4 separate regions of the Homo sapiens genome follow, and regions 2, 3 and 4 are each linked to region 1. The links come from fine-mapping of genetic effects on gene expression. A gene starts in region 1. Each other region holds a variant in brackets. All regions are shown on one strand. Distances are from middle to middle. Region 1 holds the start of PICALM (phosphatidylinositol binding clathrin assembly protein). Region 2 overlaps PICALM (phosphatidylinositol binding clathrin assembly protein). Region 3 has its middle 42 kb from the start of LINC02695. Region 4 holds the start of LINC02695 (long intergenic non-protein coding RNA 2695).

What was found.
Region 2: its variant is fine-mapped to the expression of PICALM in whole blood (TOPMed, PIP above 0.99). The same link has a PIP of 0.9 or more in gastroesophageal junction, sigmoid colon, sun-exposed skin, tibial artery and tibial nerve.
Region 3: its variant is fine-mapped to the expression of PICALM in whole blood (TOPMed, PIP above 0.99).
Region 4: its variant is fine-mapped to the expression of PICALM in whole blood (TOPMed, PIP 0.99).

The regions. Positions count from the first base shown.
Region 1 is chr11:86,065,199-86,073,307 of GRCh38, forward strand. It overlaps PICALM (phosphatidylinositol binding clathrin assembly protein), which reads right to left and starts at 3,886. Exons shown (of 20, transcript NM_007166.4): 1 at 3,453-3,886. The coding sequence starts at 3,582. LOC124902731 (a long non-coding RNA gene) reads left to right here and starts at 4,726. Exons shown (of 2, transcript XR_007062823.1): 1 at 4,726-6,499; 2 at 7,120-7,303. RefSeq lists enhancers at 2,532-3,234, 3,235-3,936, 3,676-4,875 and silencers at 3,501-3,550, 3,621-3,670, 3,811-3,980, 4,131-4,400.
Region 2 is chr11:85,974,545-85,982,653 of GRCh38, forward strand. It overlaps PICALM (phosphatidylinositol binding clathrin assembly protein), which reads right to left. Exons shown (of 20, transcript NM_007166.4): 15 at 7,328-7,459; 16 at 7,201-7,231; 17 at 6,585-6,684; 18 at 2,079-2,138; 19 at 164-268. Among named protein-coding and RNA genes, the nearest start is that of PICALM, 90 kb to the right of the region's middle. The variant C/G (reference allele first, on the strand shown) is at 4,425.
Region 3 is chr11:86,147,627-86,155,735 of GRCh38, forward strand. It overlaps the pseudogene RNU6-560P. Among named protein-coding and RNA genes, the nearest start is that of LINC02695, 42 kb to the right of the region's middle. RefSeq lists cis regulatory regions at 893-943, 3,639-4,149 and an enhancer at 3,740-4,240. The variant C/G (reference allele first, on the strand shown) is at 4,346.
Region 4 is chr11:86,188,612-86,196,720 of GRCh38, forward strand. It overlaps LINC02695 (long intergenic non-protein coding RNA 2695), which reads right to left and starts at 4,887. Exons shown (of 2, transcript XR_001748524.2): 1 at 4,822-4,887; 2 at 2,857-4,303. It also overlaps the pseudogene FNTAP1. The variant G/A (reference allele first, on the strand shown) is at 4,998.

The DNA.
Region 1 (8,109 bases):
GCCCTTTGGGAGGCCGAGGCGGGCGAATCATGTGGTCAAGAGATCCAGACCATCCTGGCCAACATGGTGAAACCCCATCTCTACTAAAAATACAAAAATTAGCTGGGTGTGGTGGCATGCGCCTGTAGTCACAGCTACTCAAGAGGCTGAGGCAGAATCTCTTGAACCTGGGAGGCAGAGGTTGCAGTGAGCCAAGATCGCACCACTGCACTCCAGCCTGGCGACAGAGCGAGACTCCGTCTCAAAAAAAAAAAAAATTTGTTTTTTCTATCCTGCAATAATTATGGTTCTTTTAAGCATTCTGTACTGCTAAATGGAATTAGAAGCTACTTTCTATGTATATGAATTGCCCCCACCTCCAGCTGTGAGACAGGATTAAATGAGATGATGAGAAAGTGCCTGGAAAACTGAAGTTCTTCAAATATAAGGGCTGCTATTCCTCTACCTTGATTATGGCTACTAAAGGCCTAAGATTAAACGGAAATCGTGTTTATTTTTACAAACATATTTCAAGTTTGACAACTCTTTCACACTAGGGATGCTAGTCAACACTATTATCCACTAACACCTACAGTATAAGCAAAGCAAAAAAATCTTTCTTCAGTAAGTATATAATGTAGTATGAATTAAGCCATAATTCATGAATTATTAATAATCACTTCCTAATGTGGAAAGATCTTGGCGAGAAACTGACAGAAACCACCTCCACACTCTAAGGGCTTATACGAAAAACAACAGTCCTAAGCATATTTTTTGTTAAATGCTGCCATTTTAAAATGAAATCATTTTCATTAGATTCATATAAATAAGCATCAGTTGCTAGGGGCATTAAAAGGTGCACATAAACTAAGCTTTCACTATAAAGAAAAATTCCTAAAAGACAAAAAATTACTTGAAATGACAGGTTTCTGTATTAAAGCCTAAAGTTCATGATGTCAACACCATGAACTGTCCGTAGAAGACTTTTTAATTTTCTCAAAGCATGTTAGTGTGTGCAAGGAAGGTATTTGTTTAGTAAACCACTCACTGGTCAGACTTTACCTAAGATAAAGGTATTTTATTAGTGAGAACTGATTACAGGACATTTTAATCAACAATGTAGGGAAAATAGTATCCCTGTATTTTAAAACCTCATTGAAAAGAAACAGAAGCACATTAACGACACATATATTTTTAAATCAAATACTACCAGGTATATTCAAGTTCCAAAAACGTGGGAGCTTGTAAACACAGAAGTGGTAGAGAAAAAGAACGACAAATGCAAGATTATCCTCCAAACCTAATCCCAGTTACCATCTATCTGCAGTAGTGGCTATAACAAGAGAAATAGCTAATAACATTTATGAAACAACATGCAAATAGCACTCTTCTAACCCTACCTATTTTCTCCTCTTTTTGACAATGCTTTAAAAGAACCACTGCTACATTTGAAATAAGACACAAACCTTTACAAAAAAAACTTTTAAAAGCCTTATCGATTCTTATTTTGAATGAGGAAAGAGGAAAATAGTTCACACAGTCACAACTAGTTTCTTCATACTCCCATACAAAAAAAAAAAACAAAAAAAAACCAAAAGCAACTAACAAAAGAATTAACACAGTGTCAGGACAAACTGTAAGATTTGGTAGGGCAAACCAAGTAGTATTTGAAGAGCCGTAAATAGCAGAAACGTCTACTACACGTATCAGATAATCAAAAAATCACATATGGCTTTACGATGCATTTTAAAAAGTTTTCTGTTCATAAGAGTGTCACCATTTAAACATATTCTCCATTCTCTAAGACAAGCAAGGACTGAGAGTTTAAAAGCAGCCTGCATGCATATCTGAAAGAATCAAGCACTAATGCTTTTTTATTTAAAACTTTTTTCCACAGTGGAGGAACAATCACAAAGAATAATAGGCTTCTGTGTAGCAAAAACTTGTTCTAACAGCATTCATGAGCACAGTAACTTGGAAGAATCTACATTTCGTACATTTTTTTTAAAGTGCAAACTTTACGGCCAAAGTCCAAATGAGAAATCAAAACAGGCTTCCAGACAGTGAATTATCTTTCAGGGCATGCTCACTCTTGCTTCAAACAGTAAAACAAAGTAACTTTCATGTATGATGAAAGTCAGTCAGACTAATGTGTCCAGTCATTTAAAAAGGGAACTTACTTATCGTGACTATTGCCCTATTTTTCCCTGAAAAGTTTCAGGTCTAAGCTCCATTGGCTTGAGTGATCCAATGAGCTTTGTACCCTGGGGTAAAAGAGCGCAAAGAAAAAGGAGGGTATTACAGGTGACTTCCAGGTTAGAAAAAAGTTACGAGGAGTTAGCTCTACTAATTGTATCTACGTTAGCGAATGGACGAATACTATGTCGTGTAAGAGAAGCTAAAGCTAGTTCCTCAAAAGGTAACTGGCATAATTAAAACATCCAAACTCAAGCATCATCAAACATCATTTTGCCAATTTTTTTAAGGGATGTATGTTATTTGTAAGTAAATTTATTAATCCATTTGGAATTCCAACAGTCTACGCTTAACACTCAAGCTTCTGAATTCAAGCCGCCAGAATTAACAGTTCCAGGAACTGATAAGAGTATCAGCAAAATGCCTTTTTCCATATCCCCATGTGAAAAGCTGGGGGGCAGAGCTGACAGTCACAAACTCACCCCAGTCAAAAGTATGGACAACACAACGATTAAATTCCACCAGAGGCAAATAAAAATCCCAACTTTCCAGAAAGCTTTCCCTACACCAAATTGAATCCTTTTACTTTCACTCCCACAAAGAAGGTAATCTGAAATAAAAGTCGGGTAACTGGGTATGGTATTTAAAATGAGTCGAAGAAACTACACTGAAGCTACTATAGAGGCGATGAAAAGGTAACCCAAAAGCAGGAGGGAAGGTGGAACAGAAAGCCAGGAAGGGATGGGCGAAGCAGCTAGTGGAGCAAAGGAAGTGGGGGATCCCTTCCAGGGAGGCAGCCCGGAGGGATAACAAGGATCTGGATGCAAGGAACCAGGCGTTTACTGAAACCCGAAGGAGGCTGATGAAGAAACAATGGGGCTTGGAGACGCTCAGACGAGGGCGACGAGGCGGCACCGGACGGGTGGGAAGGAAGAGCAGAAGGCTGCAGTGGAGACGGGTAGGGGGTGAGAAGCCAGGTGGGGAAGCAAGTTGGTTGGGTATGATGGGGTGTGGTAGCGCACCGGGCAGGGAGACGAGGGTCCCCTAGGAATAGGGAGGGGAGTGGCTTGTCAGATTTTGAGACGGGGAGCGGAGGCCGTGAAGGCAGGTGTGATGGAAGCAAAAGAACACAGCTCAACGGGCACAGGACCGGCCGTGCCAGAGAAGACGCAGGGAGGGAAGAGGCAGTAGAAGGGTGAAAGACAAGAGAGAGAGAGAAGGACGCGCGCGGGTCGCGCGGGCGCCGGGGAGCGGGGGCCGCGGTCGGCTTCACTCACAGTCCAGGTGCTTTTTCTTGGGCCCCATGATCTCGTGGGTCGTGGCCTTGCATACTGTCTTGGATACGGCAGAGCCGGTGACACTGTGCTGGGCGGCAGTGATTCGGTCCGTCAGGCTCTGGCCGGACATCTCTGCAGCTCCTCCACCACCCCACCCGCTCAGCAGCCGGCGGGGACTGGGACCCCCAAGAGCCGGAGGGTCCCCACCCCCCACCGCACCCCCTACCCCCACCGGCTCCTTCCCCGCCTGCCGGCCTGGGGCGCGGTTCGGGGCCGCGCGCTGCCACCAGTCCAGAGAGAACCGGCTCGTGTCACCCGCGGAGTCGGACAAGATGTCGGGCACTCCCTTGCCCCCGCCTCAGTTCAGCCCACCCCTTCCCGGGTCAGCTGGAGCCGGGCAGGGTAAGAGGAACAGGCAGCTGCAGGAAAATGGCGGCGCCAGGCTCCTCCTCGGAGCTTTCCGGGCTGCCCCGGGTCACGTGACTCGGACACCGCCCCTCCTCCCTTCTCCCGCCCCTTTCCCCTTCCCTTTCCTCTTCGACGCCCGCCCTCCCTCGCTCAGCGAGGGAAGAGCTGGGCGGCGCCCGCGCGTTACGTGATGGAACTCGCCAGGCGGGCGCAACAGGAGGCCCGCCCGAGGGGAGTGCACAGCCGGCGCATCACGTGACTCTCCCTGCCAACAGGTCGCCTGAGGCTCGGCCCGCGGGGTCACAGACGCCGGGCGGGGCGGGGCGGGAGAGGAATGGCGAGGGCGGTGTGCTGGCGGGGGTGGGGCGGGGCGGCAGGCTTCTCCCCTTATCCCCCCACCTCAAGTGTGTCCTCGTGTCTGTGGTTGAAACCAACAGCTTGACAAAGGAGGTGCAGCTGCCTTCACAGCTTCCCCTGAAGTGGGGGGTATTAGGCCTCTGGCTCCCCGAGCTTTCCCAGCAGAGTCAAGAATGTATTTCAAGACGCCTCCCAAAGCCGCCCTCCTGGCTTAAAGGAGAAGGTTCCAAACGGCCTATTTTCTGAACCTTCCAGCAGGCCTCTCTCTACCATGGAACTATTGAAGCTCTCCTTATTTACTTACCCCAGAAAGGTTTTTTCCCCCCTTTCCTTGAGAGGCTTGGAAATGTCACCTGGTTTTGTTTATCTCTACTCCGAAAACCCGACACGTTGCTGCCATTCTAAATTTAGATACTAGCTGGCCGGTATTCATTCTCTAGGGTGTGGAATAGGACAGGAAACACATAGCTTCACTGGAATTTGAAAAGGGAAGTAGTAGGATGATGTCAACAGCGATTAGCTTGACCCTACATGGCTGACTGCTGTGGTGATTAAAGGTCCAGACCATAGAAGGAAGTGAGAGGGGCGGTAAATGGAGAAGTCCCATTCAAACAGTCCAGACATCACTGCCTGCCATCTCCCCTGGTTTAGTCTTTCTTACCTTTGGCCTCTTTTCTCTTATTGGGTGAGCCAGATTTCCATGGAAAGACGTTGACACTGCCCTGTGGACATTTTAAAAGAAGTATTACATCCTGAAATACTATTCAATGAGACCCAGACCATACATTAACAAAGCCTTTTATATGTTATTAGAGCCTCTACATTCAACCCAGGGTTAGGGATAAGTTGAAAAATATGTGAGTGCTAAGTTACCATGATAGTCACATGTAATCTTGCTAGTTTCAAATGAAATGCTAACATTCTCAGAAAGTCTGTGTACACCATCTGCCAGCCAAATCCAAAATACTGTGCTTCAATCTGGTGACTCTCAAAGGATGCAAAGCTGATAGATATTTAACATTTTATGTATCATATCAGGAATTTTGTGGTCTCCCATTTTCCCCACGCCCCCTCACCCCTCTTTTTTCCCCACTATGGCTGGTGAAATTCTGCAGCAACATGCTCTTGCCAAGAACACACAAGTTTTTAATCCCAGCAGGCTTCATCTTTGTCAAGCCAGCCTCCAATTTCACAAAACTATAATGAATTCCTTCAGTGTACTGCAATCCATCTGTGGTTTGGTGCCCAGTTTGCTGCCCCACGTCCACTGGGCAGTGGAATTACCAAATTCTCAAGACATGTTATCAGCCATCATTGCTACTGGTCTATGGGTTCCACTGTATAAGTTACTGATTGGCCTGAGCCTCTGCATTGGTAAACCCCAATCTGAGGTCAACACTAACATGGTCTAGCTATCAACAGCTGAATATTTTATCCTTAGGGAAAATGCCAGTCATTCCTAAGTACATAACAGGAAAGTATTACACTATTACTTTTACCAAAGAGGTTCTTTCAGACCACTTTTGTGACAATAATTGTTGACATGTTTACCCTATTAACAAACAAGCTGCTGTTAGAAATATTTTATTTTTTTCCAAGTATACATAGTAGAATTTCTAACTATGTAAATAATCAGTAATCATTGAAGAGGTTTATGTGTGGTTGTGAACTGAAATATATGGAGAAATTTAAAAGAAGATGGGGAATTGTTCTAAGGGTAGACATTACTGACCTATGTTGTCTTATATGCTTAAGTTTTCTGTGTCAGTTTCCTTGGTCTATTCAGGAAATATCTCTACCTGAAGTTCCACAGATGCCAACTCACCATGGCCAATACTGAACTTCTCTTGCCCTTGCCCAGCATCCTACATCTTTAATCCATACTGTTCCCTATATCCGTTAATGGCCTCACCACATGTCCAGAAGCTCCGCTCAGAAAGCTGTGATTCTGAGTTCTCCTTCTGTCTTATTTCCCTCATCAAGCCTAATCTACTTTTATCTCTCAAACACATCCCATCTCTAACCCCACTTCTGTTGCCTTAGTTCCAGCCTTTATGATCTCTGTTATACTAGACTGTTTTAGTAACTTCTTAGCTGATTCTCTGTCTTTTATACCCTGACTCTCCAATTCAGATCCTTCTGAAACCAAAATGTGATTGTCTTTTCTTTGCATTAAAATCTTCCAGTAACTCCCCCATCGCTACCCTAAAGGATGAAATTAAGAACTCTCAACCTGGCATACATGGTTCTTCATGATCTGGCCTCATTTTAGAAGTTTCTAAGTATGTAAATAATCAGTGACCATTGTAGAGGTTTATGTGTAATTGTGAAATGAAATACATGGACCAATTTAGAAGAAGATGGGGAATTAGAACTAAGAATAGGCATTACTGACCTACTTTATCTTATATACTTAAGTTTTCTCTGTGTCAGTTTCTTCAGTCTATTTAAGAAATATCTTACCTGAAGTTCCACATGTGCCAACTCACATGGCCACCTAAACCTGTTGAGCCTTGTCTCTTCCCATTCCTCTAAATTCCCCTACCTACCTACTACTTGTTGAGCCTCATCTCTTCTGATTCCTTTAAATGCACTCCAGACAGTATCACACTACTTGACATACTTGGATGTCATGCTGTTTCACATACCAATAAGCAGTTACTGATTTCCTTTTGTTACTCATATATCCTTCTGTTCTCTAATTATTATTGTGATTGACTAATTGCACTAACATGGGGGTGCAGAGATACATCCATGCTAGTATTATGGTTGATGCAAGGTAGATACACAGTAGATGGTGATTGAACGAATGAATGAGAACGCTTTGAAATCACGCATTCGGACACACCATCACTCCAAACCTCTCATTTGATAAAATCTGCCCACTTTTTCACACATTTAGCATGTCTACTGGGCATGGAGGCATAAGCCTATAGTCATAGCTACTTGGGAGGCTGAAGCAGGAGGATCCCTTGAGCCCAGGAGTTTAAGCCTGCAGTGAATTATGATCCTACCACCGCATTCCAGCCTGGATGACAGAGCAAGACACTGTTTCTAAAAATAAATAAAGCATGTCCATCCCATAATTATCTGGTTGGAGCATCATCCTTATTCAGTACCTTGTTAATTAATTTACTCTTTCAAAAAATATGTGTTGAACTGTGTGTCAGGCATAAAGGTTCTAAGTGCCAAACACTATTTACAGTGAACCCATCAGTCCTTTGGGAACTAGTTAGTTCTCAACTTGAAGGCCTCTTTGCTTTGATTGTAAAGGAGCAGACCAAAAACAGAAGGAAAAAACTTGAATAACACATTTCCTAGGTATTTCCTAGGCTCTTCCAACTAAAAGGTATGTTGTAGAGAGGCAGGGAGTGTTCGGAGAAGGAGCAGGTTTTTTTTATTGCCTCCTATGTGCTAAAAACACTACATTTTAAAAATGTAATGCTCATAACAATAATTTCAAAAAGTATCATGTCCAAGTATCGTGCCCATCCAATACAAGAAAACAGACAAGTCTTGGAAATTTTTTTTTTTTTTTTTTTGAGGCAGTCTTGCTCTCTTGCCCAGGCTAAAGTGCAGTGGCATGATCTCGGCTCACTGCAAGCTCCACCTCCTGGGTTCACGCCATTCTCCTGCCTCAGCCTCCTGAGTAGCTGGGACTACAGGCGCCTGCCACCACGCCTGGCTAATTTTTTGTACTTTTAGTAGAGACGGGGTTTCACTGTGTTAGCCAGGATGGTCTCGATCTCCTGTCCTTGTGATGCGCCCACCTCAGCCTCCCAAAGTGCTGGGATTACAGGCGTGAGCCATCGTGCCCGGCCAAGTCTTAGAAATTGAGTAACTTTCCAAAATCCCACAGATACTAAGTGGCAGAAGCAAGATTTAAAAAATA
Region 2 (8,109 bases), 91 kb before region 1:
TATTCCTAAAGCTCTTATATAAGAAAGATATGAAGCAAGCAATATCCATAATGAAGGTAGAAAGTGCTAGTAACTTGTTTCTCAAGTTGTACAAAAGGGTTTTATAGTATCATATTCCTTCCAAATCAAACACATTACCACAGTTACATGTAGTGTGTAATACCTGTGCTCCTGATACAGGGCCAAAGGGGTTTGGAGGTCTCATGACAGGCTGGCTGTATATTAAGGTTGGTTGCGTCATTACAGGAACACTTCCCATTTGTGGAGGCTAAAAAAGAGAAAAATATCAAAAGATACTGACTCCTATCTTCCTTATTGTGACTAAGTAAATAACAATGACAACAGGGATGACAGGTCCTAGTACCTTTGCTTGACTCAAAGGGTAACTTCCTCTGAATATAAGTAAGACTAACAGCTACAAACTTTCGAGAGTATTTTTTTTTCTTTTGGTAAGTAAAGTCTTTAACATGCTCATTTTTAAAATGTAGTAACAAAGCCTAACTTTTTCTATTCAATGAGTTGCAAAATGTAAACTTTATTGTATTACAACAGATAAAATGATTAAGACTAAGAGTTTCCAAATTTATCAGGTTTAGACATCAAGAAAACTTAAGACTCTGTCTTCGCTGCTAAGAAATTTCAAAGTAAATTTGTATAACAAATCAAGTACTTTTGCCATTATGCAAGTGATCACAAGTGAAGACAGTTGATTCTCTGAATAAGCCTGCTCTAGTTCTTCCATTTTATTTCATATAAGAATCAAGAAAGAGCTTAAACTACAAACCAGAGGTTAACTCTTTCTTGAGTAACTGAAAATACAATCTCAACCAAATATGTTTCTTTAAAAATTACCACTACAGGGTATAAAATTAACCTAGTAAGTGACAATACCTAGTGTAAAAATAATGCACAAACAGAATACTGTTTTGGTTAAAATGCAATGCTCTAAAATCTTTCCTTTCAAGAAGTTCTATTTATTGTTTCAAGCAGACTACTATTTGCATTTAGAGCTTCATTTTAAGTTTATGGCCTGAGTTTCTCAGCAGACTTTTTTTTTTTTTTTTTTTTTTGAGATGGAGTCTTGCTCCGTTGCCCAGACTGGAGTGCAGTGGCATGATCTCAACTCACTGTGACCTCTGCCTCCTGGGTTCAAGCCATTCTCCTGCCTCAGCCTCCCAAGTAGCTGGAATTACAGGTGTGCGCCACCATACCCAGCTAATTTTTGTATTTTTAGTAGAGACGGAGTTTCACCATATTGGTCAGGCTGGTCTTGAACTCCCAACCTCAGGTGATCCACCCACCTTGGCCTCCCAAAGTGCTGGGATTACAGGCGTAAGCCACCACACCCAGCCTCAGCAGACATTTTAATGCAATGACTATGAAAAAAAGCTGTGAAACTTCTCCACATGTATAAAAGGAGTTACTTCCATATCATATACATAAAGAAGTAACATAGCAGGCACAGTAGCAATACCAAGGGACACGGTACTGCCTTCTACCAGGAACAGTTCCTCAAATACATACCAGTGGGTTGAAGCTACTAGCACCATTTCTTTTCTAATTGAGTCTCTATATACTGAGAGTTGGGAAACTAAGGGCAATCTAAAATGCACATTGTGGCATTTTGAAAGGTTAAAAGACTGTTTTTGTACTGTAATAATCATTGTCACAGGAAAATTTCTCTAGCCTTTATCAGACTAAATTTATCTCTATACAATTCAAGTGTTAATCCCTCCCATGCCCTACAATATCAGGTTATAAGACCTCACTGGTATTTAATATATGGTCACAGCAACAAAGGCTTAGAATTAACATTAATGTTTGAAATATAAAAGGCCCAGCAAAGTTACGAGGAGAAAAATAAACCAAGTAATACTATGAACATTAATGCATAAGATCTCTTGTATAATGATTATTCTAGACATACTTATGAAACCAATGCTATGGTTCTACTGCATTAGGCACTAGGGCTAGGAGTATGAGGAGCACTAAATTCTTTTTTAGGTTAAATTGTAATAAAAACATGTTATATATGAATCAATATTTTTTCCAAAAGCTGTACCTAGGAAAATACTTACAATTCCATATCCTATCATGCCTGTTGGTGTAGTAGCAGGATAGGCCATTACAGGGGGTGCCTAACATAGTGAAAGGAAAAATGAACAAGAAAGTATAACTCATGTGTGTCAACTGAGTTCAAGGAATTAGTAGCTGTAGTTCCACTAAAAAGAATTGCTAAGACAGCTGTGAGTAAGTGACACTTGTGATCATTAAGAACTGTCGATTAATGGTCAGTGAAAAAAAGTGTTTTGAAATTAGCAGAAAAGCAGACTTATTAGAAGGATAACTATACCACTTAAACTTAGATACAGCAGTGATCTAAGATTTCATCATGCTTTTTACAGCTTTAAAAATCTTTAGATTTAAAAAAGTATCTTAAATAGTTCTAAATAGTTCTAAAATTTAAAGCCTATCACTATCATTAAAAAATGTCTACCCAGAAAAAGTATTATTGAATGTTTTCTTACTTAGGTACCTGATTGCTTTAGCATTCAAAGAAAAAAATGTAAAGATCTCAAATCAATCAATAACCTGATCTTCCAAAAAGTTAGTTTCTAAGGATCTTACTCACTCTTTTCAAAAAACTCCAAAGGTTTCAAACTACTATTGAGTATGACTATTTCTATGAGCCATAGTTCTTATATAGAGTATGTACGTTAGCTTTCTAATTTATTCCAAAAATTATTTAAGAGGAACAATCAATTAGGTCAGTTTATGCTTTCATGTTTAAAAGAACCATCTATCACTATGATGTTTAAGTTCCCCTCTTCCTACTACTTTGATTATCTGTAAACATACAATTTGAGAACAGAATCATTTTAGATATAGTTGCTGTCTTAACAACATTTCCTGTGTGTGTTTCTCATAATGAAAACTGAAATTGAATAAAGGTGAAAGACCAATAACACTGCTAAAACATAAAATAACTGAAATTATATGGCAATTTGAACATATGCATGGAGAAATTAAATGAAATATAACTTTAAAAAAATAACACTAAAGTGAATAGTTATAAGTTTAGTATTCGGGTGAGCGTGTAGGACTTATTGGTCTCTCCCTACTTAAAACCAAGATCTGCAAGAGCAGTAGACAAACTGCCAAGAAGAGCAGAAGCCTGTAAGATTTCATGCAGTTGTTATTTTAAACATTACCACAATCAACATTTCCCTTCATTCAGAAGTCATCAAGTGCATAGTGGCAGCACAGATACACACACAGACACCCAGCCATCTGGCAGCAAATGGCGGAATATTAAGCAAGAAAAAAAATCGGTATTTCCCATGCCACCATCAGAATCAATTCTGCAACACACCCATGAAATCAGTAGATGCTAGGAAGAATTTCTGGCACATTGAAAATCTGAATGTGAAAACAAGTAATAGCTGAAAGGTTATGAGATTCTGCTACAGCAGTGGTTAATAGCATGCCAATTTATTGCAAAAAGGCTCGTTTTTGGTCACTTACGTATTGTGGAAAATGCATGCCATTCTGTTTTTCCCAGGGAGAACAATTACATAATGCAATAACACTGGATTAGAACAAGTACTTACACAACAGAAAATACACAGAGAGCATTTTAGTTCACATGTACATTCACTAACTACCTAAAATCCCTTGTATTTCCAGTATCTAATGAAAGAACATCTATACTAAAACACTATCAAGGTTGACAAGGGAATTGTAGTCTTTGGCCTCATCTCTTTATATAAAAAATAGTTTATTGATTACAAGTACCATTAAAACATCAATTCTATCAACAGTGTCAACAGTGCAAAATTTTGGGCATTGCATAAACAGGGTTGCATCAGATGTCTACCACAGAAAAAAAGCAAGCACTAATTAAAAGAATTTGTAGTATAATATATATTTTAATAAAATTCCAATGAATTTGTGTTAAATTTAAAAAACACTGAAAAACCTTGACAGTGTTTAAGGATTAATAAAAAGGTTAGAAATGTAAAGAAATGTCAAAAGCAGCAGTTTATCTTAAGTAGTGAATCACATTATCAGCCCCAAACATTAGCCATTAAAAAGAAAACTCCATAAAATACATATAAATATTTAAGCAAAATCCTTAGGAGATGATACACATTACCATATATAACACAGCAAGATAAAGACTGTTACCTTATCAACTTAAATACAAATTCTACATGACTAAATACCTACTACATTTTAGTAGTCAGTCTTAAGTGCTATCTATGAACTCCTAATACTTCATATAGATTAATACTAACTTAATATAAGAAAATATTCATTATATTTTAATAGCAGCACTGGTATTTATATCATTCCTCATACATCATCAATGTCATAATTCACACGAGTCCATAAAATCCACTACTCTAAACTCCTACCATACC[C/G]TAGTCAGTGAGGTGTGTTATAGTGGGAAGAAGACTGGATTCAGAGTCAAAGAGATGGATTTCAACTTAAATCTGCTTTTCAACTGCTTTGCACTTAGGGAAAAAAAAAATCTTTAGAAGTGGGGTGATACATGCTCCAATTCCCTCAAGACAGCAACATTTACATGTTTAAGATTGTGTATTTGTGTGTATAAAAATCTAAACTACTTAAATGCAAAGTTTTAAAATCAGTGATGATAGGCTGGGCGTGGTAGCTCAGGCCTGTAATCCCAGCACTCTGGGAGGCTGAGGCGGGTGGATCACTTGAGGTCAGCAGTTCAAGACCAGCCTGGCCAACATAATAAAACCCAGTCTCTACTAAAAATTTAAAAATTAGCTGGACCTGGTGGTGGGCACCTGTAATCCCAGCTACTCGGGAGGCTAAGGCAGGAGAATCACTTGAACCTGGGAGGCAGAGGTTGCAGTGAGCTGAGGTCGCGCCACTGCAATGTAGCCTGGGCAAAAGAGCAAGACTCCGTCACAAAAAAAAAAAAAATACAAAATAATAAAATTAGTGATGGCAATGAACACTGTCTGAAAGAAAACAAAAACAACAACAAAAAAACACTGCCTTAAAAAGGTAGCTAAATCTCAATATTACTTTCCATTTATGAAGTCTTAAGCTATATAATAAAATGCACAAATTTTAACAAACATACTATTTTTAGCTCAGTCCTACTAATTTTAACATATCATTAACCCACGGAAAACAGGGCAGTGCTCTGGAAGTGGCTATAAGGACAACCGCAGCCTCTAACAGTAACAGGACAGCTGTCAGTAACGTGTAGCCCGTGTAATCAAAACACAGCTACTAGCCTACTGTCTGGAGAAAGAATGCTTCAAACTTTTCCACAAGGAGTTTTCTTTGACTGACGAAAATTTGTTGGTTGGTAAGATAGAAACTGGCCAAGGACAGGAGAATAGCCACAGAGCTATTCTGGGTCTACCATACCTTACAGTAATTAAAACATACTAAAACCTCTTCATTACTAGATGCTAATTATTTAATTAGAAAATACAGTTAATCCTCATTATTCATGGATTCCATATTTGCAAATTCACCTACATGATAAACTTTGTGACACCAAAAATCAACACTCCTGGTGCTTTCAAGGCCATTCATGCTCATTTGCAGAGGGGCAAAAATTTGACTCATCCAATACAGTTCACCTCCAGCTGAGATGGAACAAAGGACACTCTGCCTTGGTTCAGCTCTCATACCAGACCAGAGGATAGAGAAGGAGGATGGGGAGTCCATCATACTGCAAGAAACTCTGACTCTGGGGCCAGCTGGACAGGGCTAAAATTCCAACTCTGGCACCAGTTAGTGCGACAGCCTTAAGCAAGTCACTTAACACTTCTGAACTTTATTTCCTCTTTCATAAAATAAATAGAATATACTAGAATGAGGTTTTCTAAAAGGACCGTCTATGTGACATATACATATATGCATATATTTCCCCCAGCAAGGGTTCAGTGTTCACTAATTCAGTGTTTGGGGTGACTTAAGTACTTAACTGCCACAAATAATGAGTATCAACTGTGTAAGTTATATGACATATATATAATTGCCAAACACATTGTCATATATATAAATTATATGACAAAACCGAAGCAAGTATAGTTTCTTTACCAATAATGAAATCACAAGATTTTGTATTTTAGAAAAATAAATAAAAAATTTGAGGTCAGTAATATAGAGTAGTGATTAAGGACATATGTTCTATAGTTAGGCTGCCTAGGTTATAAAAATTCAACTCATCATTTAAGATCTCTGTAATCCTGAGCACATTGCTTAATAACTCTGAGCCTCCACTTCCTCATCTGTAAAATAGGGATAATAATAGTGACTAACACATTAATAGGAGGATTATAAAAAATAAAACATTATTATTTACTGGAATATGTCTGGCACAAAGTAACCCTTAAATACTTGTTAGCCACTAAAATGTATCTGGTAAATATAGGCAACCAGCTTCCTTTGAAAGAAATACAATTACTTATACTTCTAAACTCAGTAACAATCCTTCTATTTATGTCTATCACTTTAAAAACATTTTCATGTTACATATTTAACTAAATTATTCAACTGTTAGTCTATCAGGAGCTTTTTCAACTCACCATTGTTGCAGCATTCCAAGCGGTTGTTGGTGCAACCTTTGGTTGCCAGTTAGATCCCCCAGTTAACTTCTTTTCACCTGGTTGACTCCAATTTACATCACTTTAAATAAACATAAGTGAGAATATTAAATGTCTCTAATTATAAAGTTTCCTTAGCTATATACTTATATAGAACAGAGTAAGATAGAGACTTGAGGCTGGGCGTGGTGGCTCATGCCTGTAATCCCAGCACTTTGGGAGGCCAAGGTGGACAAATCACTTGAGGTCAGGAGATTGAGACCAACCTGGCTAACACGGCGAAACCCCGTCTCTACTAAAAATACAAAAAAATTAGCCAGGCATGGTGGTGGGTGCCTGTAGTCCAGCTACTTGAGAGGCTGAGGCAGAAGAACGGCGTGAATCCGGGAGGCGGAGCTTGCAGTGGGCCGAGATTGCGCCACTGTACTCCAGCCTGAGCAACAGAGCGAGACTCCGTGTCAAAAAAAAAAAAAAAAGATGCAGACTTGATATCTCTACACATATTTTTGAGAGGAAAGCCAAATCAACCCTCCAAATAACACATGGAGAAAACACTAAATAACACACGGAGAAAACAATGTGTATATTAAACACTCACTTCTTAGTGGTTCCATTTCCGATGCCAAGATCTAGGAAAGGAGAAAAACAAAAAAGCATTTTATAACACGAGACGCAGTTTAATAAAACAACATAAAAGAAGATTAACGTATCCAAAGACTACTTACTGCCCACAAGGTTGGCTAAAGATGAATCCAAGTCATCAGATACTAACTTGCTAGGTGGGAGTTTGGCAACAGGAAGGTTCTGGTTCTGAGAGGCCACTGTTGGTTTGAGAAGTCCACCTAGTTCATCAAAGCCTTAAAGTTACAAACAGACGAAATAGAATTTGTAAGGAACTTTATGACGCTATGGTTTTCTAAAGGAGGTCTTTGCCTTTTCTCCTTGTTTATTCACTGGAAAAGTTATCCAAAAAATAGACATTAGTAAATGTCTTTAAATGGAAAATGAAGAAAGTCACCACTTCATACTGAATTGACTGAGAAGGCTGTATTTGCTTTGACAGAAATCATCTCTTATCTCATGACAAAATTACATTAGGGTTAAAGGGGATAAGAGAGAAGTATTATAAAAGAGAAAAAAAACAAATGTAATTCTCCTGCTAGCCCAGCAAAATTTTCTGAAGACTCACTTATATCTAAAGCAATATAGGTTAAAAAATAGCTCTCTGGAACTTTGAAAAAAGTTCCTTTTACGTTAAGAAATAAGATTTTATAGACTTTTTTTTTTTTTTTGAGACGGAGTCTTGCTCTGTCGCCCAGGTCGGACTGCGGACTGCAGTGGCGCAATCTCGGCTCACTGCAAGCTCCACTTCCTGGGTTCACGCCATTCTCCTGCCTCAGCCTCCCGAGTAGCTGGGACTACAGGCGCCCGCCACCGCGCCCAGCTAATTTTTTGTATTTTTAGTAGAGACGGGGTTTCACCTTGTTAGCCAGGATGGTCTCGATCT
Region 3 (8,109 bases), 82 kb after region 1:
GCCAACATGGCGAAACCCCATCTCTACTAAAAATACAAAAATTAGCTGGGCGAGGTGGCGGGCGCCTCTAATCCCAGCTATTCAGGAGGCTGAGGCAGGAGAATCACTTGAACCAGGGAGGCAGAAGTTGTAGTGAGCTGAGATCGTGCCATTGCACTCCAGCCTAGGCGACAGAGTGAGACTCCATCTCAAAAAATAAAAACAACAACATCAAAAAAGCCCCTTTTCTTTATTTTTTTGAACAAACACTTCCTTAGTACCTCTTATATTGCAAAGACAGCAATAGGCTGTTTGTTTCAAATGTAGAATCTGAAGACTTAGAATGGGGCAAGAACCAACATGTCCCTTTAAGGAGCTAGAACATGTCACCTCAAAGGCTCCCTCCACTTCTGCCACCTAACGCAGTTGCTTCTTACTCTAAGCAAGAAGTAACCTCCAAATCCTAAAAGTACATTAAGAACCAGTGGGACATTTCTGGGAAGCTCATTTATTTATTCTTTTTGTTGAGCAGACAAATATTAAGCATCAACTATGTACCCAGCACTGTACTGGGTGCTGAGGGTACAGGATTGATAAGATGGAGGTCCTATACTTTAAGAACTCATGGTTTGGGGTTGAGGTAGGCCAGAAAAATAACAATCCCAACAAACTAGAATCTGTTACAAGAGAAAAAGCCAGGAGGGAGTTGCTCACAGAACCTAGAGTGAGGAAAGCTTTAGAAGAGGTGATTAGCACCTAATATATGCTCCGTAGCTGCATACTGAGTAAATTTAAGTTTGAGCTGAGTCTTGAAGATGAGGGGAAGGTTAGCAGGGAGAATAAGAGGAGTAGGGAATGAACAAGATCACACATATCAGAAGAGTGTCTTTTGAGATTATTTTATCAGCAGTAAACTGGATGGGTTGAAAGGGAGAGATTATAGGCAAGGAGGTCAAGTAAAAACCTGGAGCAGTGATCCTGCTGAAAATTGAAGAGGACTTCATGTGCACTCAGCAGTAATTGGGACTGTGCTCAGTTTGCCTAACCTTAGCTTGCTCTCAGTGGTATGGTGCACGGCTTGTAATTGTTATTCGCATCTCCCCATGAATGCATGCCTGTTCTCCCTCACTAGGGTGGAGACTGTCATTGACTGAAATCCTTATAACACTTAATTCTGTACCCTGCACCCCATGCATCCCCATCAAAAGCTGGGTTGATGATTGGATTCCTCGAGCTGGCGTGGGAGTGGGAGAGCTGGAACAAGGGAGCAGGGAGAGGAAGGGAACCAGGGCTGGCAATGAGGGTCAAAAAGCATTTCATGTTATCTTAAATTTTTTTCACAAGTGTAATGATGCCTTTATGTGTTCATGACTTAATTAAATAGTTTTTTTTAAGGTAATAAAATCATTAAGAATATGCAGTATTGCTTTTCACTGCTTTTCTATTTTTCCTTTTCCTTTTTGTTTGTTTGTTTGTTTGTTTGAGATGGGATTTTGCTCTGTTGCAGGCTGGAGCACAGTGATGCAAGTATGGCTCACTGCAGCCTTGACCTTTCAGGCTTAAGAGGTCCTCCCACCTCAGGCTCTTGAGTAGCTAGGACCACAGGGGTGGGCCACCATGTCCAGCTAATTTTTTTTTTAGAGATTAGGGTCTCACTGTGTTGCCCAGACTGGTCTCAAACTCCTAGCCTTAAGCAGTCCTCCTGCCTGAGCCTCCCAAAGTGTTGAGATTATAGGCATGAACCACTGTGCCATGCCCAGTAGTGCTTTTAATAGTGAAAAGTTTGAATTACCTAAATATCCAGCAATAGAAATATTACCAAATCAATCATGATACAATTTCAATGGCAGAATTTAACAAAAATAATGTTGTTGAGGTATGTTCACAGATATAAAGAAGTTAGTATTTTATAGTTCCACTTAAAAGTAAGTAGATATTAATTACTATATTCTGAATTATCCCATTTTTGTTAACAAATATATGCACAAAAAGGTTTAAGATACCTTTATATAAGAAGTTTATGTAGTTTCTACATCAGCGGGATTCTGTTGTGCTTTCTTTTACTTCTCTATTTCCTAATTTTTAAATAAAAAATAAATAATAAGAAAACCCCAATTTTTAAAAATGTTAATGAAATGAGAAAACTGAACTAGGAACAAAGAGAGTAAGAAAGCTAAGAGGAAAAAATGTACCATGGTGCCATGGTGGATGGGGATAATAAAGAAAGTAGAGAAAAGACGTTCTTGGAATTGTTTTTTTTGAAAGAGATTTTCTTATTTTCCATAAAGTTAAGGGGAAAAATATTTTTGTTCTCAGAGTTTTTCAGTGTGCTTTCCAAGCCATCAAATTCCTAAATATAACCAAAGTTGATGATTTTACAAGTAAGCCAATATAAACATAGTAGATGTTTATATTTCAACATTAACAACGTGACATTGGAGCTGCAAAAGATCTTCCCAATTGGCCATATTTTATTTTTCTCAAAAGTTTCCATTTTCAGTCCCCTTTTAAAATACATCCAGTCCCCCCTCCCCACCCCCACTCCACCCCTTTGTGGCTTTAAAATTTCAAGAAAAGGCAGAACCAGATTAACATAGTAAAACTGGGGACAGAGCATGTGGAAGAAAGGAGCAAGAGGGAGGTGGTAGAAGGTTACGCATTTGGGGAGGAAGAGGAAGAGAAGGAATTTTTGCAGAGCCTTGCCTCAAAGAGGTACTACTCAAACTTAGTCAAATCATGTAGGCTCTTGTTAAAATGCAGGTTTTGATTCCGCAGATCTGGGTGGGACTCCCTGGTGATACCCATGCTTACTGGTCCATGGACAACTTTGAGCATCAAGGCCTTAGACTCTGGGACTTTGCTCTTCCACCCTGGTCACATTTCACATGGGCAGCCTCTGGCTGTGATAACCTCTTTCTTTCTAACCTAATAGGGTTTTATTTTATTTATTTATTTATTTATTTTTTTGTCAAAATACCAAATATTGGAAACTTTTCAGAAAGTAGTTTAACCATGAGCAAGGTACAGTTCAAGGTACTCTCCATGGAAGAGAGTAAAATGGGAAATACAATATGGAATGGGTAGAAGCCCCTGATATACGAATGTTATTTGTTATAAAGGGCGTGGTGTTGTGGAAAAAGCCCTGGACTGGTTGTCAACAAAACTGGCTTCAATACTAGTGATTACTAACTAGCTATATGCCCTTGTGCCAGTCATTTTTCTCTGGTTCTCTGTTTCCTTTCCTGTTAAATAAAATAATTGGTCTACATGGCTTCTAAAATCTTTTCAGTTCTGACACTTGAAGAATCTATAAAGGAGATCCTATATCAATAGGAAGGGAGGGAAAGGGATGTGCCACCACACGCGCAGCTGCCAAGGATCCTGTACATGTGGTATTACTGTGGTGGAATCTCCCATTTGTCTGCCCAGATGCAAAAATGTTATTGGAGTGAGAGACTGGGAAACTTGCCTGGTATGAAATCCTAGTACCCCAACTTCCTGCTTTTGGCAATTTAGAGTCTTGGGAATCAGTCCCAGCCCCTATAAAATAAGGCAGACCCTGTAAACATGCCTTCCAAGAGCCTCCAATGTAGCTCTGACAGCTTTCAAATTCTAAGCTCCTCAATCCTCCATTCTCAGGCCACCCTCAGGTTTCACCTCATTCCCCTGTACTGGTCAGCAGCCAAATTCTGCAGCCTCTTGAGCTTAAGGTCCCAGCCAAAAAGCCTGACTGCCCTCCTACTTGTGAACAAATCCCAATTCTTGAAGCAACCCCAGCCCTCCCCAACAGACTCCCTGCTGAACCCTGAGTCTCCCAGATACTCAAACTTAGTTCAGCCCTGTAGCAATCAAGCCTCAGGGATTTGGGCTGGCTGGAAGCTGACACTTCTCTGTTTAAGATAGTCCCATCTGCAGAGTGAGGATCAGCCCCTAAATTGATAAGCACAGGGTGGGAAAGCGACCTGCCCTAGTGAGATTACCCAGACTCTAAAGTAAGGTCCTGCAGCTCCACCTCATACCTCCATGGACACACACTCTTTGGCTTTTAAGTTATGAAACAGACCTGTTGCTATTCTAAGGAAGTCTCACAAGTCACCATATAAACATGCCAGCTTCAGGCAGCTTCCTGTGGTTTGCCAAAAACCAGCTGGGAAGGCAGCCAGACTCCCGCCACCGTCCTGGAACCCCCTCCTCTAGCAGACATTCACTCAGGGCATGACCTCCTGAGGTGCCCACTTGGGATGCAGGAACTTAGTGGCTGCTAGAGTTGTTATTTTTCCCTCCAGCCCCAGCCTGGGCTGGGCTGAATGATGTGGCTGGCTGGTACAAAGGCTGCTTTTTATAATGTTCTTCTTTGGTATTTTTG[C/G]TGTCTGGAGAGGGCTTCCTTTCCTCCCACAGTTAATTAGCAGCATCAAGCATTTCCCTTTCTCCAAAAGAAGTCTGTTCCCACCCATGAGGCCAGGCAGAGGAGGTGGCAGGTGTGGCTAAATGCCCCCTGAGGTTAACCTCAAACTTAAACTTAGAGCCCTACTTGGTTAGAAGTGATGTGAAATGCAGGGCTAGCTTCCATTCTGGGCAGAGTCGGCAAGTGGGCACACGTCCCTGGCAAGCTAGCATCCCAATCAGGTGAGGGGACAGAGAAGGGGGTGGGGAACCAATGTGTGTTTGACACATTTGTGAATTGTTTCTACAACAAAGACTTTTTTAAAACAACAGAGTGAAGCTTTATATATTTGAATGAGAAGCACACAGAAGGACCTATTGTCTGGAGGAAAAATTGCATGAGTAATTGTGCATGACTTCAGACTTCCCAGTTGAAATGTTAGGCATATTAAGGATGATTGAGGGCATTCCAGTGTTTTCAGTGTGGAGAAGAGGGAGGACAGAGCTCCCAGGACTAGGGGAGGGAGGCAGGTTGTGTAGCAAGACAAGGGAGGAAGGAATCTGAGGAACTCTGTACCCCACTTTGCTCTCTGGTTTCCATTTTTCCTCTATTTAATTGAACTGCCACCTCCTACAGGAAGCCTTCCTGACCCTATCTCCTTCCTCCACCTGTCACTCTAGGTGTTCTTCTTGATACATATCTCCTGTCTTTTCATTATTTACTTGACTATGATACTGTGGATGGGCCATAGAAAAGAGAGGATGGACTCCAGATGCCACTTCCTAGATGTGTTACCTTGGACAAGTTACTTAGCCTCTCTGTGCCTCAGTTTTCTTGTCTATAAACAGTAATACCTTGTAGGGTTGTTGAGAGGATTAAATGTGTTAAAACCCATAAGGAACTGAGAATAGTGCCTGACATACAGTGTGCACCCTCAATAAATGTTAGCAATTATTTATTTTTATTTGCATCCCCTCTTGTTTGCACAGGACCTAATATATCATGGGGCAGCTGTGTTCAACCCTCATATGCATCTTAATTGCTTGAGGAGCTTTAGAAATGTACAGGCCTGGCCTGGGCTCCATTAATCTATGGGTGAAACCTGGTAATGGTATTTTGGAAATGTTCCCTGGGTGGTTTTATTATGTAACCAGGTTGAAAACCAGTGTCATAAATGCTCAAGGAATATTTGTTGAATGAATGAATGAACCAAATGGGATCAGAAAGAACAAACCCCATGCTGGCTTCGGCAGCACATATACTAAAAATTGGAATGATACGGAGAAGATTAGCATGGCCCCTGCACAAGAATGACACACAAATTCATGAAGTGTTCCATATTAAACATATATATAGAGAGAGAAAGAACAAACCCAGGTTACCCCATCTTTAGGAATGTGAAGGCATGATGATTCTGTCTCCTTCAGAAAGTTGATTCTTCCTGAGACAGGTTTCAAGAGAAAAATATGACAGAGAATATAATGGAATACATGAAAGAAAGAATCATAATCCTAGTCATCTCAACATGAAAGTATTGAAGAAATAGAAAAACAATTGCCTAGAGCTCATATTAGAGATCAACAGTTATTTTCTCTTGCTCTCCCTTCTGTGTATGCAGATTTATTTCCTGGAGTTGCTATAACAACTCTAGCTAGAAGGTGAACTTTGACTTTTCCTCTAGTTTTAATTTCGATTTGCTACTCAATCTTTAATTTAGAGGACATAAAAATTTATCTCAAATAAAGCATTTGCACCACTCTAATGTATATTCATGCATGATGATAGCATAATTATAATTAACTGCTTTACCTAGTTGGTCCACAAAATTTAAACTGATTACTGCTTGTAGAACATTAAGTCAGGCACCTCAAAATGGAAATAGGAAACTAGGCCGGGGTGGTGGCTCACACCTGTAATCCCAGTACTTTGGGAGGCCAAGGAGGGCGGATTGCTTGAGCTCAGGAGTTCAAGACCAGCCTGGGCAACACAGGGAAACCCTGTATCTACCAAAAATACAAAAATTAACTGGATGTGGTAGCATGTGCCTGTAGTCCTAGTTACTTGGGGGGCTGAGGTGGGAGGATCACTTAATCCCAGGAAGTCAAGGCTGCAGTGAGCCATGAAGGAAAATTAAATTTAAGAAAAGAAGATGCTATATACAAGGAACAGTGACAAGGTGAGAAACTAGCAAACCTACAGTTGTCTAAGTAGTTTTTGATGCCTAATATTTAAAAAGTTAGTAAAAATCTTGCATTAATTCCCAAATGAAGAGAACGGGAAATTTTAGAAAATAAAAATACTTAAATATAGGAATAAATATTCTTCATGACCTTACTAAACAACAACAAATAATGGGAGAGATGTACCATTTCCTGAATGGAGGATCAATAATGTGAAGGTGTCATTTCTCCTCAAATTGATCTAAAAGGCTGGGTGCGGTGACTCATGCCTGTAATCCCAGCACTTTGGGAGGTAAAGGTGGGCAGATCACTTGAGGTCAGGAGTTCGAGACCAACCTGGCCAACATGGTGAGACCCTGTCTCTACTAAAAATACAAGAATTGGCTGCCGTGGTGACACATGCCTGTAATCCCAGCTACTCAGAAGGCTGAGGCATGAGAATCACTTGAACCTGGGAGGCAGAGGTTGTAGTAAGCCAAGATCACACCACTGCACTCTAGCCTGGGCAACAGAGTGAGACCCTGTCTTAAAAAAAAAACAAAAATTGATCTATAAACCGAATAAAATCTCAATTAAAAAACCAGAAATATACAACAAAAATACTATAAGCAAAAGTTAAAGAGTGAAAAGGACAGATTACTTGCCAATTATACAACAGAAGATTAATATCCTTAATACATAAAGAGTACTTATCAATGAATATAAAATACAAATTAAACTATTAAAAAATGAAGCAAGGAATTGAACAGTTAATTAAACAGAGGAAGAAATGTAAGTGGTCAATAAGCATATAACAATGTTCAGTCTCATGGGTACATAAGGAAATGTAACTTAAAATAAGTCTGAAATATTTTTAGTCTTCAGGTTGTAAAAAATGAATAAACAATAAAATCCAACATTAGCAAAACTTCAGGGGAAATGACACTCTCAAACTCTCTGGGAGTATCAGTTGTTATCACGGTTTCTAGAGAGCAACTTGGAAGTATGTATCAAAATTTTCCATTTCTAGCTATCTAACCTGGAGAAAAGTTTGTAGAAGAGTCCATTTACACTGTAAATTAAGTAAAAAATAGAGAGAACACCAGGAGGCTCCCATAGCACAGCCAGTAAACAGTGCCAACACTGGAGTTAAAGTGCTGTGGTTCAAATCCCTGTTTGGCTACTTACTAGTCCTGGGGCTTTGGGTGAGATTACCTTAGCTGCTTCAGCAGTCAAGTAGGGATGACAATATGCAGTACCTATTTCATAGGGTTATTCTGAGAAACATTTTGCATGCCAGGTGCGGTGGCTCACGCCTATAATCCCAGAACTCTGGAAGGCAGAGGCAAGAGGATCGCTTGGGGCTAGGAGTTCAAGAACAGACATGCAAAGGGCTTAATGCCAGGGATAAAATACTTCCCTGTGCCATGGTAGTCCACCCCTCTCTTTCCCAAACCCCTAACCGTGTATGCCATTGCAGGTTCCTAAATATGTAAGTGCGTAGAGAAACTTATGGCAGAAACTGATAGCACGGTAACTTACAGAAGAAGGTGGGGTTGAGTGGGAATATGTAAGATTTTTACTTTT
Region 4 (8,109 bases), 120 kb after region 1:
ATAATTCACATACTATACAATCCACCCACTTAAAGTGTACATCCAGTGGTTTTTGGTATATTCACAGAGTTGTATAACCATGACCACATCAATTTGAGGACATTTTTAGCATCTCAAAAAGAAACCCTGTACCTTTTACTATCACATCTGAATCCTCCCTCATAGAAATGGTTTTATATAACATGTGGTCTTTTGTGACTGCCTTCTTTCACTTAGCATAATGTTCTCAAGATTCATCCATGCTGAAGCATGTACCTACTTTATCCTTTTTATGGCCAAATAATACTCCATTGTGTAAGTATAGCACCTTTTGCTTATCATTTTATCAGCCAATGGACATCTGAGTTGTTTCTACCTTTTGACTATTATGAGTAGTGCTGTTATGAATATTTGTGTACAAGTTTTTGTGTGGACATATGTTTTCATTTCTCTTGGGCATATACTTAGGAGTGACATTGTCAAACGATAACTCTATTTTTAACTTTTTGAGGAACTTCCAGGTTGTGTTTTCGAAAGTGGCTGTACCATTTTATATTCCCACCAACAATATATTGAGGGTTCCCACTTTCCTATGCCCTCACTGACGCTTAGTGTGCTTTGCTTTTTTCACTCAACATTATTTCATAGATATGTTTCCATGTTCACTTGGTTATCATTTTTAATGGTTACACAGCGTTCCAAATCAGTTAGTTGGATATTATTTAAAAATTACTTTAAAGCTCAGGACTTGGATTGTTTTCATTTTGTGCCATTATAAATAGTGGTACTAGAATCTTCACTGCTTACTACATTTTTCCTTTAGCTTATGTCCTTGAGGTATGTTCCAAAGTGGAACAAAGGGCACATACAGCTCATGTACTGCTTCCCTGGTTAGTCTGCAGAAGAGTTGACTGTACCTAAAATGCTATCAGCAAAGTTTGCACTTGCCTTCCTCTCCACAGCCTCTGCCAACATAAGGCTTTGTTGCTTTATTTGTGTATATTAATGATATAGTTACTGTATTAGTCTGTTCTCACACTGCTAATAAAGACATACTTGAGACTGGATAATTTATAAAGAAAAGAGGTTTAATTGACTCACAGTTCCACATGGCTGGGGAGGCCTCATAATCATGGCAGAAGGCAAAGGAGAAGCAAAGTCATGTCTTACATGGTAGCAGGTAAGAGAGTTTGTGTAGGGGAACGCCCATTTATAAAACCATCAGATCTCATGAAACTTACTCTCTCCCATGAGAACAGTATGGGGGAAACCATCCCCATGATTCAGTTATCTCCATCTGGCCCGGCCCTTGACACATGGGGATTATTACAATTCAAGATGAGATTTGGGTGGTGACTGAGCCAAACCATATCAGGTATAGGTACATGATAGAATCTTATTTTTTATTTTTATTTTGAGACAGAATCTCACTCTGTTGCCCAGGCTCAAGTGCAGTGGCACGATCTTGGCTCACTGCAACCACTTCCTCCTGGGTTCAAGTGATTATCCTGCCTCAACCTCCCCAGTAGCTGGGAATTACAGGCATGCACAACCACATCCAGCTAATTTTTGTATTTTTTAGTAGAAATGAGGTTTCAGCATGTTGGCCAGGTTGGTCTCAAACTCCTGGTCTCAGGTGATCTGCCTGCCTCGGCCTCCCAAAGTGCTGGGATTACATGTGTGAGCCACCACACCTGGCCTGAATCTTAACAATCTTAGGCTGTTTCGATTTGTATTTCTTTCATTGTTGGTGAACTCACAATATTTTAACAGCCATCAGCTGTTACTCTAAGCCATCCATCCAAAAAAGCCAAGCAGTGCAGGAGAATCTAGGGCCATAGCAAAAGGCAGAAGATGGAGCTTAAAGAAATTCCCTGGGTTTGGGCAGGGCGTAGTGGCTCACGCCTGTAGTCCCAATACTTTGGGAAGCCAAGGAGGGGAGATCACCCGAGGTCAGGATGATCTCAGGTCAGGTTCGAGATGGTGAAACCTCATCTCTACTAAAAATACAAAAATTAGCCTGGGCGTGGTGTCAGGCACCTATAATCTCAGCTACTTAGGAGGCTGAGGCACAAGAATAGCTTGAACCCAGGAGGCGAAGGCTGCAGTGAGCTAAGATCGCACCACTGCACTCCAGCCTGGGCGACAGAGTGAGACTCTGTCTTTAAAAAAAAAAAAATTCCCTGGGTCTGGGAGCAGGCTCAGGAGGTATGTTTGATAGCGTGACTGCAGCCTCAGCTGTAGATGAAGAGGACACTGGTAATGATGCTGAACTGATTTAGACATCATATCCTTTTCCACGTTCTCCTTTCATTTGGCACTTCTCCTGGTTCTGCTTCTCCCTCCCTGGCCATTCCTTCTAAGCCTCCTTTCAGCATTTCTTTCCTTCTACCTGCTTCTTATACATCGGTATTAAATATAGGATTTCATTATTGGATCCTTCTTTTTTAACTTAATACTCTGGGCAATCTCATTCACCCCCATGGCGGTAATGACAATTTAAATGCTGAAAATTCCCAAATATGTATTGCCAGCCTAGACTACGCTCTTGAATTCCAGAAGCACATATCTAGTTTCCAACTGTATATCTCCATTTGAATGTCCTCTAGGCACCTTGAGTCCAGTATCTTCCCCTCCGATCACTCCTTTTTTTCCCCATATGCCCTACCTGTATGACTGTAGCAACATCAACCCAGTCACTGAAGCCAGAAATGTGGAAGGCACTCCAAACTCTTTCTTCTGCACCTACATATTCCTAAATGTGCACCTTCTTCTCCCTAAACCTATTACACGAATTTGATTAATGTTTCAACCATTTCTCCCAATAACTCTAGCATTGTTACATGTATTAGGGTTCTATTGGTTGCAACTCGTTGCTTCAGAAGGGAATGGAAGAAGATTTATTGGATGTATACTTGTGTGGAATGAAAGGAGAAACTGAGAAATCATTGTGGAGAGGCAGGCTTCAGAGTGGCTCCGGGGACCTCAGCAGCAAGCAGGTTGCTCTGGGCCTTCTCTGGAGAGTCTCCTACGAATAGACTTGGTTCCAACAATGCTTAGCCTCTGCATCTCTTGGATCAAAGTTCCAAATTTCTAGGGAAATCTGGGGACCAACAAAGATTAAGAAGTTTAGGAAGTTTGAGTCATGTGATGGGGACACAGCTCTGGAGGATGACTTCTATGTATTAGAGGCAAATATCAAAGAAAAAAGAGACGGCATGAGATGGACAGTCTTTCCAGAAATTGTCTATGACATTGCCACAGTTTCTGAACTGGTCTTCTTGCCTCTGGTCTTACATTTCACCAACCCACATTGTGCATTCTCTTCCAAAATACAAGTCTGAGAGAAAAAAAAAAAGAAAACTATAGGCGTGAAATCCTTCTTCATCTCTTACTAAGTCTTGGACTTTGAGCAACAGCAACTACCATCTGAGTCCCTCTGATCTGCTAGCACTGTGTCAGTACTTTACATATGTTATATTCATGACCACTCTGCAGGGCAGATATTGTAATTACTGTGCAAAAGAAGAAAGTGAGGCTTGGAAGGAATTAGTAAGCTTGTCCTAGGGGCCCTGACTGGCAAGTAGCAGAATTTACCTGATTCAAGGCATTTATTAATGGATTATACTCCTTCTCTGAGATTTGCAGTCTCTTGGTTTATAAAGTGAGTATAACTTTTTTGTTTTTCAGGATTAATGTTAGAATTAGGCAATACTGGCTACATAATTTGTGAGGCCCAGTGCAAAATGAAAATGCAGGATGGCCCCTTGTAAAGTAATTATTAAAAATTTCAAGAGAGCAACAGCAGGGCATTAAACTCAGTATGGGGCTCTGTTTTTGGGAGGCACCAAACACCCAAACCATATCAGGATGTGAAACCATCTTTGGGGGACCATTATTCAGCCTACACAATAACAATATTCTTATTCTTATTATTTTGTTGTCCTTATTTCATGCTTCAGTGGTTTCAGAATAAAGTTCAAACTCTTTTCCAGGACATGGCTAGCCCATTGTGATCTGACCCATGCCTATCATTCTAATTTCAATTCTTTCTATCCCCCCACATGCATTGAACACTCCAGTAACATTGAACAACTTGTGATTTTTCCACTGCAATCTGCTGTCACTTGCTGACCAGCCTCTTTCATACTGTTATTTCTGCACAGAATATTCTCCCCCATTTCCCCTTTTCACCATTCTTCTTCTCTTTCAGTTCTGTCTGATTTTATTGTTGTTGTTTTTAATACTTAGCCCAGGTTTTCTCCTTGGAAAACTTCTCTCCACCACTTATGATCTTGGAAAAGTTTCTTCTCTATTTTCACATCTAAAGAATGAAAATCACAGAATAACACCTGCATTATTATGAGGCTCAAATGACATAATCCACATAAAGCACTTGGCAGACTGCCTGCCAGGTGGTAAGTGCCCACAAAAAAATTATCTGTAATTATCGTAAATATTCTTTGACCTTCCCCCATGGTGATATAAGAGCTTTCTCCTCTGTCCTCTACTAGCAACCAGAGCATAGAAGGTGGCAGGCTTTCCTGTAATTTACTGCTCATGTGTAAGTCTGTTCTGCTGTACTGACCATTCTTTGAGATCAAGAGCTCAATTGTTCATTTCCATATCTTTAGTGCCTAGCACAGGGTTTGGACATATGGCAAGTTAATACTTATTGAAGCAAAATAGGGAAATAATTATTAAGAGGACACATGCTAATTCTGTTCTCAGAATATTTTTTAAAACATTCATTCCATTCTTATGTTCCTGCAGTACAAGTCTAAAAATATTTCATTTGTCTACCTTCTATTTAAATAAAAGTGCAGCATTAACAAAACCTACCCTGTTGAGCCAAATTTCCTTTTGTCTTGCTTTGCTCTAGTCACTTCCTCTTTTTTTTCTTTCTACTTCCTCCTGGTAAAGGTCATTTCTTTCTGTGTCATAATCTCACCTTTTTTTTTAAAAAAATAATGTCAATGTTTTTCCCAAAATATGCATTCCCAGAAAGCTGCGTAGTC[G/A]TTACCCGTAACAAGGAAAACCCCACCCTTCCTGTCCCCCGCTGTGCTGCAGCCCTTGAAGTCTCCAGGGTATCTGTAACCTTAGCATGGAGTCAGTATGAGCTCCCTCTCCTGGCAGGTTATAGTCATGCTAAAGCTAGACACGGCTAGAGTATCCCAGTCACACATCCAGAAATGATTATAAAGCATGAGATAACCCAGGCCTTTCTGTTCCCTGAGCTCAGATTTAAGGCAGGTGTGGGGCTATCTAATTTGTTTGTAAAATCATTCGCTTGACAGGCATCACAGAGATCTGAATCCCATCCTACTGCTTGGAGGAAAGAAGCTGCACCGTTTATGAAAAGAATAAGAATTTGGATTTGTGCCCTGTTCTACCACTTATCTAGCTGGCTGCTCTTTTGTCAAATTACTAATACCTGCAAGCCTCTGGATCTTCAACTTTAGGGTAACATTAGACCTATTTCACCTACCTTATAGGGTAGATGTAAATTTTAAAAACAATATAAAAACGGTGCTACTTATTGGGTAATAGCTATGCTTCAGGCACTGATAGGTGCATTATCCCTATTTTGTATATGAGAAAACCACAGTTCAAGCAGTTGTCACATAGTAACTCTGTTAACACATGGAGAGCCAGGATTCATACCCAGGTCTTTCTGACTCAAAAGCCTTTCTTGATGTTTTCCCTTTAATTATACCAGACTAATGTTCCTGAATCATGCATCTGAAAACATTTGGGGGAAAACAAAAGTAAAATTCTATACTACGAAGGTAAATTTTTATTTTATAGATGTTGAAATTGAGGCCCAGAGAAGCGCAGTAACTTTCCCTAGGAGTTGGTGGCAAATACAACTCAGTAGTTTATTAAGGACTCAATAGTATTTACCCAATAGGGCTAGCAAGTGTGCAGGCTACTCGGGTGTTAAAATGTAGCTGCACCCAGGTGAAAGGGCAATCCAATAAAGGTTTCAGGTACTTTACACTTTTTTTCACATGCTTTCCACTTCATGGTTGCACTGGACAGCTTAGGTGATACAATCTCAATGATACTGTCCAGATCACGAGGGTTTCCTGAGTCCTTGTTGTGAAACACAGGAGGCCCTCTGTGTGACTTGGTCCCAGCATCAATTTCCAGCTTCATCTCTCATTAGGTCTCCTGGGTCATCATCTAGCTCCAAACCTCCTCCTCAGTCATAATGAACTGCTTGCAGCTCCTGGAATGCATCACATGGATTTGTGCCTCAGAACCTCCATTCCTTTACCTAGAATATATTTCACCCGCTGAGCATCTACTTATTTTCCAAGACTCTGTTTAAATGTCACTTTTTGGATACAGTCTTATTTGATCTCCTACCACCCCTCCCCACTTGAGATAGAATTAACCATTCTCTCCTTTGGGCCTCTAATATCTCCTCTTCATATTTTTAATTGGGACATATAATGTTTTTATTGCACCAATATGCAATAAAACTGGTTTGTTTGCACTTCTGTTTGTTAACACCTTAAGAATAAGGACCATCTTGAGATGGCGGCCACCGAGGGGGTCGGGGAGGCTGCGCAAGGCGGTGAGCCCCGGCAGCTGGAGCAGCCCCCGCCCCAGCCGCACCCACCGCTGCCCCAGGAGCAGCACGAGGAAGAGATGGCAGCAGAGGCTGGGGAAGCCGTGGCGTCCCCCATGGACGACGGGTTTCTGAGCCTGGATTCGCCCTCCTATGTCCCGTACAGGGACAGAACAGAATGGGCTGATACAGATCCAGTGCCGCAGAATGATGGCCCCAATCCCGTGGTCCAGATCATTTATAGTGACAAATTTAGAGATGTTTGATTACTTCCGAGCTGTCCTGCAGCATGAAGAAAGAAGCGAACGAGGTTTTAAGCTAACCCGGGATGCTGTTGAGTTAAATGCAGCCAATTATACAGTGTGACATTTCCGGAGAGTTCTCTTAAAGTCACTTCAGAAGGATCTACATGAGGAAATGAACTACATCACTGAAATAATTGAGGGGCAGCCCAAAAACTATCTAGTTTGTCACAATAGGCGAGTAATAGTGGAATGGCTAAGAGATCCATCTCAGGAGCCTGAATTTATTGATAATATTCTTAATCAGGATGCAAAGAATTATCATGCCTGGCAGCATCGACAATGGGTTATTCAGGAATTTAAACTTTGGGATAATGAGCTGCAGTATGTGGACCAACTTCTCAAAGAGGATGTGAGAAATAACTCTGTCTGGAACCGAAGATATTTTGTTATTTCCAACACCACTGGCTACAATGATTGTGCTGTATTGGAGAGAGAAGTCCAATACACTCTGGAAATGATTCAACTAGTACCACATAATAGTTCATGGAACTATTTGAAAGGAATTTTGCAGGATCGTGGTCTTTCCAAATATCCTAATCTGTTAAATCAATTACTTGATTTACAACCAAGTCATAGTTCCCCCTACCTAATTGCCTTTCTTGTGGGTATCTATGAAGACATGCTAGAAAACCAGTGTGTCAATAAGGAAGACATTCTTAATAATGCATTAGGGTTATGTGAAATCCTAGCTAAAGAAAAGGACATGATAAGAAAGGAATATTGGAGATAAATTGGAAGATCCTTTCAAAGCAAACACAGCACAGAAAATGACTCACCAACAAATGTACAGCAATAACACCACCCAGAAGAACTTGATGGAATGCTTTGATATTTTATTAAGGGACTCTGCAGGAGTTTAAAATGAGGGTGATCCTTCCCTTTGCCTGTGGCGTAAAAATGCATCACACAGGTATTGCTTTTTAACAAGAACTGACGCTCCTTGGGTGCTGCTGCTACTCAGACTAGCTCTAAGCCATGTGATTGTTCTAAAGCAAAGTCATTGCATGGGAAGAGGAAGAAAAAGTCCCATAAACGAACTTTTGTAGTCTTATCAACATGTAATCAAATCCCTTAGCATCAGCTCCTCCCTCAGCGGTACACGCGTCAAGATTTGTAGCAGTAATAACTGCAGGTCACTTGTATGTAATGGATATGAGGTAGCTGAAGTTTGGTTCAGTAAGCAGGGAATACAGTGGTTCCATCAGAGCCAGTCTGCACACTCACATTATCTTGCTATCACTGTAACTA